Linked DNA regions of Homo sapiens. The protein of the gene in region 3 purifies or fractionates together with the protein of the main gene of each other region. This does not show direct contact. Each region holds a gene or a part of one and is shown on either strand. Other genes may lie near its edges.

The links.
Region 1: the proteins of JADE1 (region 3) and KAT6A purify together in Homo sapiens (affinity purification with mass spectrometry, with the first as the bait; one large-scale study listed by BioGRID). This does not show direct contact.
Region 2: the proteins of JADE1 (region 3) and BLMH purify together in Homo sapiens (affinity purification with mass spectrometry; one large-scale study listed by BioGRID and IntAct). This does not show direct contact.

The regions. Positions count from the first base shown.
Region 1 is NC_000008.11:41,940,334-41,943,987, forward strand, and holds part of KAT6A (histone acetyltransferase KAT6A), read right to left. Parts: intron 3,647-3,654; coding exon 3,415-3,646; intron 2,668-3,414; coding exon 2,460-2,667; coding exon of another isoform or gene 2,448-2,459; exon of another isoform or gene 1,716-2,447; intron 1,112-1,715; coding exon 509-1,111; intron 1-508. UniProt on the Homo sapiens protein: Histone acetyltransferase that acetylates lysine residues in histone H3 and histone H4 (in vitro). Component of the MOZ/MORF complex which has a histone H3 acetyltransferase activity. May act as a transcriptional coactivator for RUNX1 and RUNX2.
Region 2 is NC_000017.11:30,271,445-30,275,098, reverse strand, and holds part of BLMH (bleomycin hydrolase), read left to right. Parts: intron 1-901; coding exon 902-1,057; intron 1,058-2,199; coding exon 2,200-2,358; intron 2,359-2,470; coding exon 2,471-2,538; intron 2,539-3,654. UniProt on the Homo sapiens protein: The normal physiological role of BLM hydrolase is unknown, but it catalyzes the inactivation of the antitumor drug BLM (a glycopeptide) by hydrolyzing the carboxamide bond of its B-aminoalaninamide moiety thus protecting normal and malignant cells from BLM toxicity.
Region 3 is NC_000004.12:128,872,128-128,875,781, reverse strand, and holds the end of JADE1 (protein Jade-1), read right to left. Parts: coding exon 3,520-3,654; 3' UTR 558-3,519; downstream 1-557.

The DNA.
Region 1 (3,654 bases), on a different chromosome or scaffold from region 3:
AGAAGTGGGGAGAGTAGAGAGAAAACAATAGCACCCAAGATGAGCTACTGTACTCTGAGTACCCCAAAATATAGGGCAGCACTATGTTCACTTTCCAATTAATTATGTAATATTTTGGCCTCCTTTTCTAATATAAACACTTCTAATCTGTACATACTTTAAAAATATCTTTTAAAGATATTTTAGGGCTTTAAGCCCCTAAAAGTCATGATTTGAACATCAAACCAGTAAGCTAAAAAAAAGTTTGTTTGCATCCCAGGAGGTGAAGCCCTTAAATAAGCTTATGATTTCTAAGTGAATTCCCATGAATCAAAGAAGTCAAACACACACACACATCTCAAATGTTCACTGGGAAGATCTTGAGCTACAATATACAGAGGCTTAAGGTTTATAAAGCAATGCACTAGGAATTTCTAACTTATACTCTTTCAGAACTGTAAGCTAAAACGAGAAGGTGTAAGATAAACTGGAATTGGAGGAAGAGAAGACCTGGAAAGAAATGCGTTACCTTTCGCTTCAGCGTGGGCTTTGTGAGAATTGGTGGCGAGCTTGACCGAGGGCTTTCCGGCTCCTCCTCCTCCTCGCTGCTCTCACTGAAGCCCCTGAGGACAGCCCTGTCACCCTCACTGTAGCGACGGGGCAGCCTCTCACTTCCTTCTGTTAATCTGCACTTCAGAGCCTCAGGGCTTTTCTTGAGCTGTCCTCGCCAGGGCTCAACCCCCTCACTGAGTCTTCTCTTGGGAAGGTCAGGTTTCCCGTCCTGGCTTGGCTGCTCCTCAGAAGCCACCAGCTGTTCTTCACTTTCAGTGTATTGTTCCTGGGTGGCTTCTGATTTCTCCCCACATTCTCCATATTGTTCCTGAGGAGCTGAAGACGTCTCTTCCAAGAGCAGTTTAGAATCTTTATCACCAAAACGTTCCTGGGTTTTTCTGTTCTTCCTCCCCCAGCGGCCCCTCCGAGATGGCTGGCTATTTGCAGGAAGACTATCATGAGGAAGGACTTGTTTGCTCAAACGTGTAGAACTGACTGGAGCCATAACTTCTGGTTTCTTTTCACTTTCTACTGAATAAGAATCTTGTTCTTTGTTCTCATGAGACACAGACTTTCCCACCTGATTTTAGAAAATAAAACAATGCTGGTTAATTTTTCAGTCTTGTTTGCTTACATTTACCTATTCTGACCTTTTAAGTATTGAGAGAAGAAAAGGAAACTGAGCTTTAAAAAGAAAATGATCAGTTATTTAACATGGATATTTCCTGTTTCAGCACTGCTTTAAATTCTGTATATGCATTATTTATTTAATCTCCCCAACAATCATATGAAGTATTACCACTACAACTCCACTTTACAAATGAGGCATGTGGGGTAGAAAAAAATTTAAGTAATCTGCCCCAGGTCACGCAAGAGCAAGAGAAGATGCTGGGATAGAAAGCCTGGCAGTCTGACTCCAGAGCCTATGTTCTGAATCTTTCTGCAGTACCACCCTCAATAAGCAAAGTGAATACTATTGTTCTTTTAAATGTTAAATGAGATTGTTTAATAAAATTTCTCAGAAATAAAAATTTGTAAACAGGGTGGAGGAGACAGGATCTTGAGACATGGGCAAGAGGAAGGAGGCATTTGAGAAATATGAAAGAAAGTTTATGTAGTTTTTAAATTTACTTTTATTCTGAATAATTTCATTTTGAAAAATTAAACTGCACTAAAGAGAGGCATGGGATTTTTTATGTTTATTAAAGGAGGATACCGGTGTTGAAAGGATGAAGCACTGCTTAAAAAAAAGAGCTATAAAAGTATGCATCACATGAAGAAAAATACTGACAATGACACATGCACTACAGTTCACCAGCAACCCTTTAACGGCTAAAGAGATCTGTGTGTCCACAGGATGTTTTGGTGCCCCATCAGAAAACATACACAAGTTTACAATAGTTACTTAATATTCTATTTAAGGAAAATGTATCTCCATTTCATTTTGTTGTTGGGTTTTTTTTGTAGAGATGGGGTCTCACTATATTTCCCTGGTTGTCCTGAACTCCTAATCTCAAGCAATCCTCCCGCCTGGGCCTCCTAAAGCGCTGAGATTACAGGCATGAAACACCACACCCAACCTCCATTTCATTTTTAAAAACTGTCAGATTTGGATTCAATTCAGATTTCTCAACTACTATCCAGCTTAAAACTGAGCTGCTTCTTGGCACCCTGGTAACAAATATTTTTCTCACAAGTAACACATTATAAGAAATTTGATGGTCTCCTCCTAATTGTCCAAGGCTTAAAAATACTTAAGTAAACCAGGTCCAGTCTTCTTGAAATCTCTACCACTGAAATAAAACTCTTGACATTCTAATGTGAATTTACTTTTCTGTGAAAGATGATCATAATACATTATTATAAATACTCATGAAATCAAAAATATATCTTCTGTCATCAAAAATAGAGACTATTCATGCCCTTACACTGATCTCTAATTCTCTTTCCTGGCACTGTGGCTCTTCGTTTTCTCCTTCCTCAGCCTCCTCTTCTTCCTCCTCTGAGACCACAGAGTTGGACACTATGACTGGAGTCCAGCGCAAACATTCTGGATCTACATCTACAGGTCGCAAATTCAGCTGAAGCTTTGCCATGTGATCCTGGATAAGTTTTTCCCGGCGGATAATCACAAATCTGGAACCAGAGAAAAGTTTATAGCAATCAACAATGTACAAGGTGTACATAAAAATGAATGTGGAGATGAGACCCCTGGTGAAGCATGTAAGATGATAGGTGCTGCAAAGATAGCCTGCCTGGGACGATGGAATGCAGAAATGTGCCACCACATGAGACGGCCAGGAGTGTGAAGCAGGACAAATGCTTCGCTCTCTACCGTGGCCGCGGGCTGTTTTCACTGCCTGCTGTCTCACACGTCCCGCTCCAGAAGTTCTGCTGCTCTTCTGCACTCTCTTTCCTATTCTCCATTTATTTGGCTCAAATGCCTCCTTTCTTTGTGACCTTTTTCTGACCACTTTAGTGAAGGGTGAACTGTCTGTTCTTCCTTTCAATCTATATTTACTTTGTGCCATTTATATGAAAATTTAACATGGGCATTTTATTTAATGACTGTTTCTAGAGTGGTTACTTCTTGTATTGTGAAAGAGCTCCCAATACTAGAAGATGAAAGATTCAGTAGCTTAGGTCCAAAAATTAGGGGTATCAGAAAAACAATTCAGTTTAAAAAGCATATATATAGACTATATATAGACCATATATATAGTCAATCAAATAAAATATCCTAGAAAGGAAAATGATATCTCATTATCACCAAGTATATCATTTATATTAGTTAATGCCCTTTCATCAATAATCTGACTGGCTGATCCAAAAAACTTCAACCTAATTATCTTTCAAAGGTATACAAAAAGATGTGATACTCACTGGTCACTACGGAAGTCCAGCATTCGTAGGTGGTGGAGTGTGGAAGTGATGTCTTGAGGGCAGATTCCAGTCAACTTGCTTAACTTCTTAATGCTGATCTGCTTGTCATTTTGGTGATAAAGGCACTCCAATATTACACTTTTCCAATATGCCATGTAGGAAAGACGACCCAGATCAGATAACGGTTTCTCTGGAGACCCTGCTTGGCCTTCACGCTTTGATAACAAATAACCTAAAGAA
Region 2 (3,654 bases), on a different chromosome or scaffold from region 3:
ACCACAGGCACAGGCCACCACGCCTGGCTAGTTTTTGTACTTTTTTTTTTTTTTTTTTTAAACCATGACTCAGCCCTCAGGAGATCCTGAGAACATGTGCCCCTAATTTTTGTATTTTTTGAGATAGGGTCTTGCTCTGTCACCCAGGCTGGAGTGTAGTGGCACGATCATGGCTCACTGAAGCTTCTGCCTCCTGGGCTCAAGCGATCCTCCCTCCTCAGCCTCTTGAGCACCTGGGACTACAGGCATGAGCCACCACGTCCAGCTAATTTTTTTCTTTTTTAAGATGAGGTTTCACTATGTTATCCAGGCTGGTCTTGAACTCCTGGGTTCAAGGGATCCTCCAACCTCAGCTTCCCAAAGTACTGGGATTACAGGCATGAACCACTGCACCTGGCCCTCCTCTTCTAGTAATACTTTTAACAGGCATTGTCATCCAACTCCAGCTGAAAAATTAGTTACTTTCCTATGACTAGAGACCCCTGTTGTAATAAGGAAAACATCAATGTATAAAGGGAAGGAAATCCATTTATAAAATTTGTCATTTTTTGGTTACTTGAAAAATAATCAGAGCAGCAACTCAGATCTTGCTGGGTATCAATGGTAGACAGATTCTTGGCTAAGGAAGTTTAAATTTTCAGGACAAGTACTAAGCACTAAATGTTAACATTTCAGAATCGCATTGTTCACAGTGTTTATTTGAGAACTCATAAGTTGACTGATAACAAATCTCAGACATCGGCTTTCCAGTTTTTGACGCAGTATTAGATTTCTTGTGAAATTTTTAGCTTGAATTTAGCCACTAACTTCTTGTGTTTCCTAAGCTTAAGGAAAATGAAGAGGTGAAAAAAATAACATTTCCCCCTAACCATTGCTCGCCTTTCCTCCTCCTCTCTTCCAGATATTCCGAGTGGTGTGCATCTGTTTGGGTAATCCACCAGAGACATTCACCTGGGAATATCGAGACAAAGATAAAAATTATCAGAAAATTGGCCCCATAACACCCTTGGAGTTTTACAGGGAACATGTCAAGCCACTCTTCAATATGGAAGATAAGGTTGGTGAATGGCACTGGTAGTCACTGGCTGTTTACTTTCAAATGGCTGTTAACCACAGGGAATTGTATAAGATTCTTGGTTAGCATGTATGAGTATCAAACTAGACAGCAAACAAACATTTTTCCCCACTTCCTCTGAAGTATTTTATGCAGCTAATGAAGTTGGTGGTGCCAGGATTTATCAGCTTTTCCACAATGTTCCTCTTCAGAGACTTTTTAAACTGTAAGCCAGCAGTCATTTTAATTCCCACATGCGCCCCTGTATAGGACCAGAATCATTCTCAAGTGCAAAACAATGAAAGTGTGTTGGGTATTTCTTATCGTGGATTCAGAGCACTTTTGCACTGAGGTCCCCTCGGGGAACTCTCCTGTTGAAGGGAGTAATCTTAGTTTTTCCTGTTCCCTTTAGGTCTTCCTCATCTGCCTAGTAGGAGGATCAGAGCCTCTTCCTTTTATTGGCTTCTTGATCCTCTTCCAAGCAGATGCCTGTCTTGTAACTTGAGAACAGGGGCCTTGTGATTAGCTCTCCAATTTTTCTTACTCAGTGCATGTTATTTTTCAGAATGAGTTTTGAGGGCCGGGTGCGGTGGCTCATGCCTGTAATCCCAGCACACTGGGAGGCTGTGGTGAGTGGATCACCTGAGTTCGGGAGTTCGAGACCAGCCTGGCCAACATGGTGAAACTCCGTCTCTACTAAAAATACAAAAATTAGCCAGGCATGGTGGCGCACATCTGTAATCCCAGCTACTTGGGAGGCTGAAGCAGGAGAATCACTTGAACCTGGGAGGCGGAGGTTGCAGTGAGCCGAGATGGCGCCATTGCACTCCAGCCTGGGCGACAGAGTGAGATTCTGTCTCAAAAAAAAAAAAAAAAAAATTGCTTTTGGAGCAGTTCTTGCTAGTAGGAAAAACAGGTAGATGCACCTCCTAATTGTGTCTCTTACGCGAATTAGAATAAGCAAGGACCTCTCTCACATGTATTTTGCCACCTTGTGTTTCTTTGTTACTTAACAATGTGGCTGTAGTACTTAGCTTGTAGGCAGAGATGATGAGCTTGATGGAAACATGAACCTAGAGGAGAGCTGTGTGTTGCTTGACATTCCTGGTTTTGTGCCCTAATTAATGTGTTCTTGATCTTGATAGATTTGTTTAGTGAATGACCCTAGGCCCCAGCACAAGTACAACAAACTTTACACAGTGGAATACTTAAGCAATATGGTTGGAGGGAGAAAAACTCTATACAACAACCAGCCCATTGACTTCCTGAAAAAGATGGTTGCTGCCTCCATCAAAGATGGAGAGGTTGGTATTGTTTCTGTATTTTGCACATTGGGGTTAAAACATCTTTTACTTCTTTGGTATAATAGGAAGATGGGGTTTATGTTGACTTTCTTCCTCTTTCTTCTGTTTCTAGGCTGTGTGGTTTGGCTGTGATGTTGGAAAACACTTCAATAGCAAGCTGGGCCTCAGTGACATGAATCTGTGAGTGCAGGAAATTTAAAATGGAAAGTCATTTGTGGGTTGTTGCTGTTGGAGTGTGCTGTTGGTACAAAATGACTCTGCCGAGGTTCATCCAAAGATGAAGGTTGACCTAAGGGCGCGTCTCTTTCTTTGCATCCTTTAGAGTTTGAGGACTCATAGCAGAAACTCCACATACTTAAACACTCTAACCCAGGACATCAAAATCCCACTTTCTATCTGAGTGGAAATCGTTGGGCGTTCCTAAAAAGCCATCCTCTATGAGAAAGACACTTTAAAAAAATAATTGACTATTGCGGAAATGTGTTCAGTGCATTTGGGAGTGTAATGAAAGATTTTCCAGAGCCCCCGTTTGCTATGTTACTTTGGTAACTTTGTATTTTGTCATTGTGACAAGTGGGACTAATTTGCATGCATACTTTATAGCATTCCTCCTGGTCATTTATGACAATGAAGGTTAATTTGTAAACTAAATCATATAGGATTCCTTGACTGTTCACCATTCTCTATTTTAGGGTTACTTATAAATAGTTGTTACTTGTAGGAAGTTGAGTAAATATCTTGATAGAGAAATCTGCTAAAAAAAAGAATTAATGAGGTTTAAAAAATTTTTGAAAACAGGTACATGCAACTCCCAAGTGTGTCTCTCACACTAACTAGAACATGCAAGGACCTCTCTCACATGTATTTTGCCTTTTGTTTCTTTGTATTTAACAATGTGAGTGTAGTGCTTATGCAAAAATATTCCCCAATATTTTGGACATTATTTATTTAAATTTTAATCAGCAGTGATTTAAATGAATTCAGAAACTGGTTGGTTCCACCAGCTCAAAAGAGATCAGTTTTCTAAGAAGTTACTTCAAACGCTTTTTTCATTATTTTTTAAAGTTTTCTTGCCTAAATGACAATGTAAACTTGTCAGCTTCTGATGTGGAGAATTTATGTTTAATCATCTCCTTTTTTTCCTGCATACTCTTGTGACACATAGAGAATGGACTCCCACTGAGAGACTAAGTTCTGCATGTTCCATATTCTTTCTGAAGAGCTACAGCTAGAGCCTTATTTATTTGGAGCTGTTGAGCCCCTTCAGTTTCTTCTGAATTCCTTTTACAACCAAAA
Region 3 (3,654 bases):
CTCAGAAAGCTCATTAGTTAAAATATTGTAAACATCAGTGTCTTGTTCCTAATAAAAATAATAGCCTACCACTTACTAAATGCCTAATATATGCTCTCTGTAAGGTGCTCAATGGACTTGCTTTAAATAATCACAACTACTTCAATATCTAAGTTACTAAGATGTTATCCTCTTTCTGGGAAAACTGAGGCTTAAAACGGTTAAGTGACTTGGCCAATGTCATGTGCCTGGTAAACTATAGTTTAGCCTTTAAATACAGTTCTCTCTGACCCTGAAGTCTACGTTGTTTCAACGATTCTGTTTTCAGATCCAAAACTGTATTCTGGAAAGAACTCCAGGTGGGGAAGACTAAACTCAAACCGTTATTTTTCAGTCTCGCCATCAGAGTTGAGCCAGAAAGCAGCCCAGTGAATCTGTGCTCTGCACAAATTTGATATGTTCTCTACAGTTCTCATTCCTGATTTAAAGTGGAAGACAGTAAACAACTGATTCAGGACTGCTAAGTCATATATACCTTTAAATATTTAGCAAAAGCAGATTTCAAAAGACACTTAAAATGTATTGCAAAATGTACAGCATTTATTCACATACAGACAAAAAGGCACAATTCTACTAAATAGTTCAACAAAAAAATACAGCTGTCCTCAACTAGTTTTATAAATACTTTCAAAAAGGGGGTAGAAATAAATACAGGATTGGGTCATGTAATATAAAATAGTCATCTCTACATATACTTTAATTTGATTTTTAACTCTTCATGCACCTTTTTTTTTTTTTCAATTTTAGCTGAATGGACACCAAGCTAGGCACATAGTGAAAAATCCTCTGTACAAGGTTACAAATGTAATGACAAGTTTGTCCATTTCAAAATAAGATTTGTACACAACACATAAAACCCTTCATTTAGATCTTGTGTTTATAACCTAACAAATGACATTCCAGGCAACTTTACAAAAGTTTAACTAGCCTACATTTTGACATAATACATTAATCATAATCAAAGATATTTCTTGGTCAGGATGCACAAGGAAAGATAAAGCTTAAAAAAAACAAATGCAAATGGTTCCATACTAATAGAACGCAAGTGGGTGTTTGGGCTGGTTGCTGCTTATGGCCACCTCATAGAGAGTTCCCAGCATGACATGAAACTAACTCACAAAGCTATCATTATACTGTCAGAGAAACCGTGCTCTATCCATTTGCATTTCGAAGCAGGAATAAAAAGTGTGGGCTTTTTATTTTTGTGTGTTTTGTTTTTGTGTGGGTTTTTTTTAATATTTTTTGTTTTGTTTTTGTTTTGTTTTTTTTGGTTCAGCATAACTTGGAACATTTGAAAGCTTTTCAACCTAAATGTGGGGAAAAAACAGGTAAGGCATTATTTTTGCACAAAACTAGCATTCCTAATAGTGCAAATGAATCTGATACCTCTTAAAATGGTGAGAGGTCATACACTTACTAGATTAATTTAGATTTTCTTTCTATGGCTTGACAAATTATCCCTCTATAAATTCTACTCTCACCCAGAGCTGTTGCTGTAATCAAAAGATAACTGTAGATAAAGTCCAACCTTCTCCTGTATCCAGCAAAAGGTTTTTGCTCATATGCAAAAAAAATCTAATTTTTAAATTATCCTACAAGTGAATATACAACTTGGATTCATAAGAACCTTCTATTATCTGCAGCAACAAGCTGATCTGGACAGCAGTCTTTCAAAATGAGCCCCATAACTCAAAAATAGTCAGTCAATCTAAAAACCTGCATCATTCTTCCCCCTCCCCTGAATTAGCTACTAAAATGTCCTTGAAAAGTTAAGACTTGGTTTGAAAATGTCGTACATACAATGGGGATGTATCAGATCTACTATTTGATCATCTGATAAAACTTGCATAGCAAGATGGGATTCAATAAGCCTTTTTTGTTGTTGACAATCATCTGGAAGACTTGAAAGTTAACTGCAGAACTCCTCAAAGCATTATTCATTAAGTATCATAATGTCCCTGCCATATGGAAACAGATGTATAAATGAATCAGGAATCTGAATACTGGTATTAACAAACTAAGGAGAATTTAGGGGAAGTCGGGCTTGTTCCAAAGGCCCATAATTCTGTATCTCATTGCTATTTAAACGTTCCTTCCTTAAGTTTGATTCACAACCACATTGAATTCCAAAGAAAATTAACAGGACCTAAACACTATCCACTGTCTTAATACATACGCACTATGGGGAGTGCAAAAACAAAACATTGTACTCAAATTTAATGCTAAATTTATTATTGCTGATAACTTAATAGTTATTGCCATTTGCAATTAGAAAGTCCAAGTTACAAATTAGAGTTTAGAACTCTGACTACAGAAAACCTATTCAAGGGTACACTTCAGTCTCTTTCCTGTATAACCTTGGTCAATAGTAAGAGCTTATCGCAACTTATTGCCTTTCTATTGTTTTTAAAATATAACCTATTTCGCTTTTTTCTCTTTTTTTCTTTTTTCTTTTTTTTTTCTTTTTTTCTTTTTTTTTTTTTTTTCCTTTTTCTTAAGGAATCCATTCATGTTGGAAGCCCAGATTCCCTAACATATGCACTAGTGGTTGGCTCTGGGAAGTAACAGTCACCAGAGTCTGGAAGTTCTTCGCTTGAACTTGAGTAGCCACTGTACTATTGGAAGCCAGATGGCCAGGTATTGGCAATGGCCAGGGAAATCCCAAGCTGGCTCAAGAGCCAGTGGTTAGGGAAGAAGAAGGTCAAGTGGACTGGTAAAAATTCTACTTCAACTGCCCTTATTCATAGATACAACTTTCCTAACAGTCTCACTCTCCACCAGTCCCATATCCACAACCCACTCACAGGCTTCAAGCAGCAGGACCTTGCCATATTACCCTAAATCTCCATATTGCAGCAGCTCTACCCTGTCCCCTCAGCTTCTTCAATAATGACCTTTTTTAAAATTCTCTTCCCTGACTGCTATATTTACACATAAATTTCTTAGTGTTACTGAAGCTTCAGAGCTGCTGCCTATATGCTATAATGCAACAAAAATAGCCTTGAGGGCCAAATATAAATATGATTTCAAGATCTACCACAGTCCTAGAAAATAAACTTTATGGGCTGTGAATGGTACCATGAGGGTTTCTCAAGAACCATATCTGGTTCCCTATATTCAGGTAACCATGAGTTTGTGCTTTGGGAAGAATGCAGAGGGCTATAAAAATTCATGAGGCTTATTTAAGCCTTGCCTTCTTTAAAACATTTCATTTTTATTTTAGTGTTCAGTTCGGGTTCTAGTCTTAGCAGTGTCTTATGGTTACAATCTACTCTTCTGTTTCCTCAACAAGTTGCAAATAACACAAACTTCTCACAAAAATGATTTAAAAATGACTCTGGAAAAAAATTAATCTGAATTGCAAGTAAATGTGTTTGTGTAGCTCAGGATTAATGGGTTTCTGCTTCTCCCCCACATCAGAGCTCTCCTCTAGCAAACCCAATGACGAGCCCAAAGGGCTTCCGCATCATCTCTGTTGCATCAAGAAGCCAAGATGCTTCTCCTGATAATGTCTGTCCTTCTGCTGATAGTGCTGCTGGTGTGTATACATTTCTTTTCTGATGCCTCACTCTCTGAGTCACTCATTTCCACATCGGGGACATACCCGTCATTCTC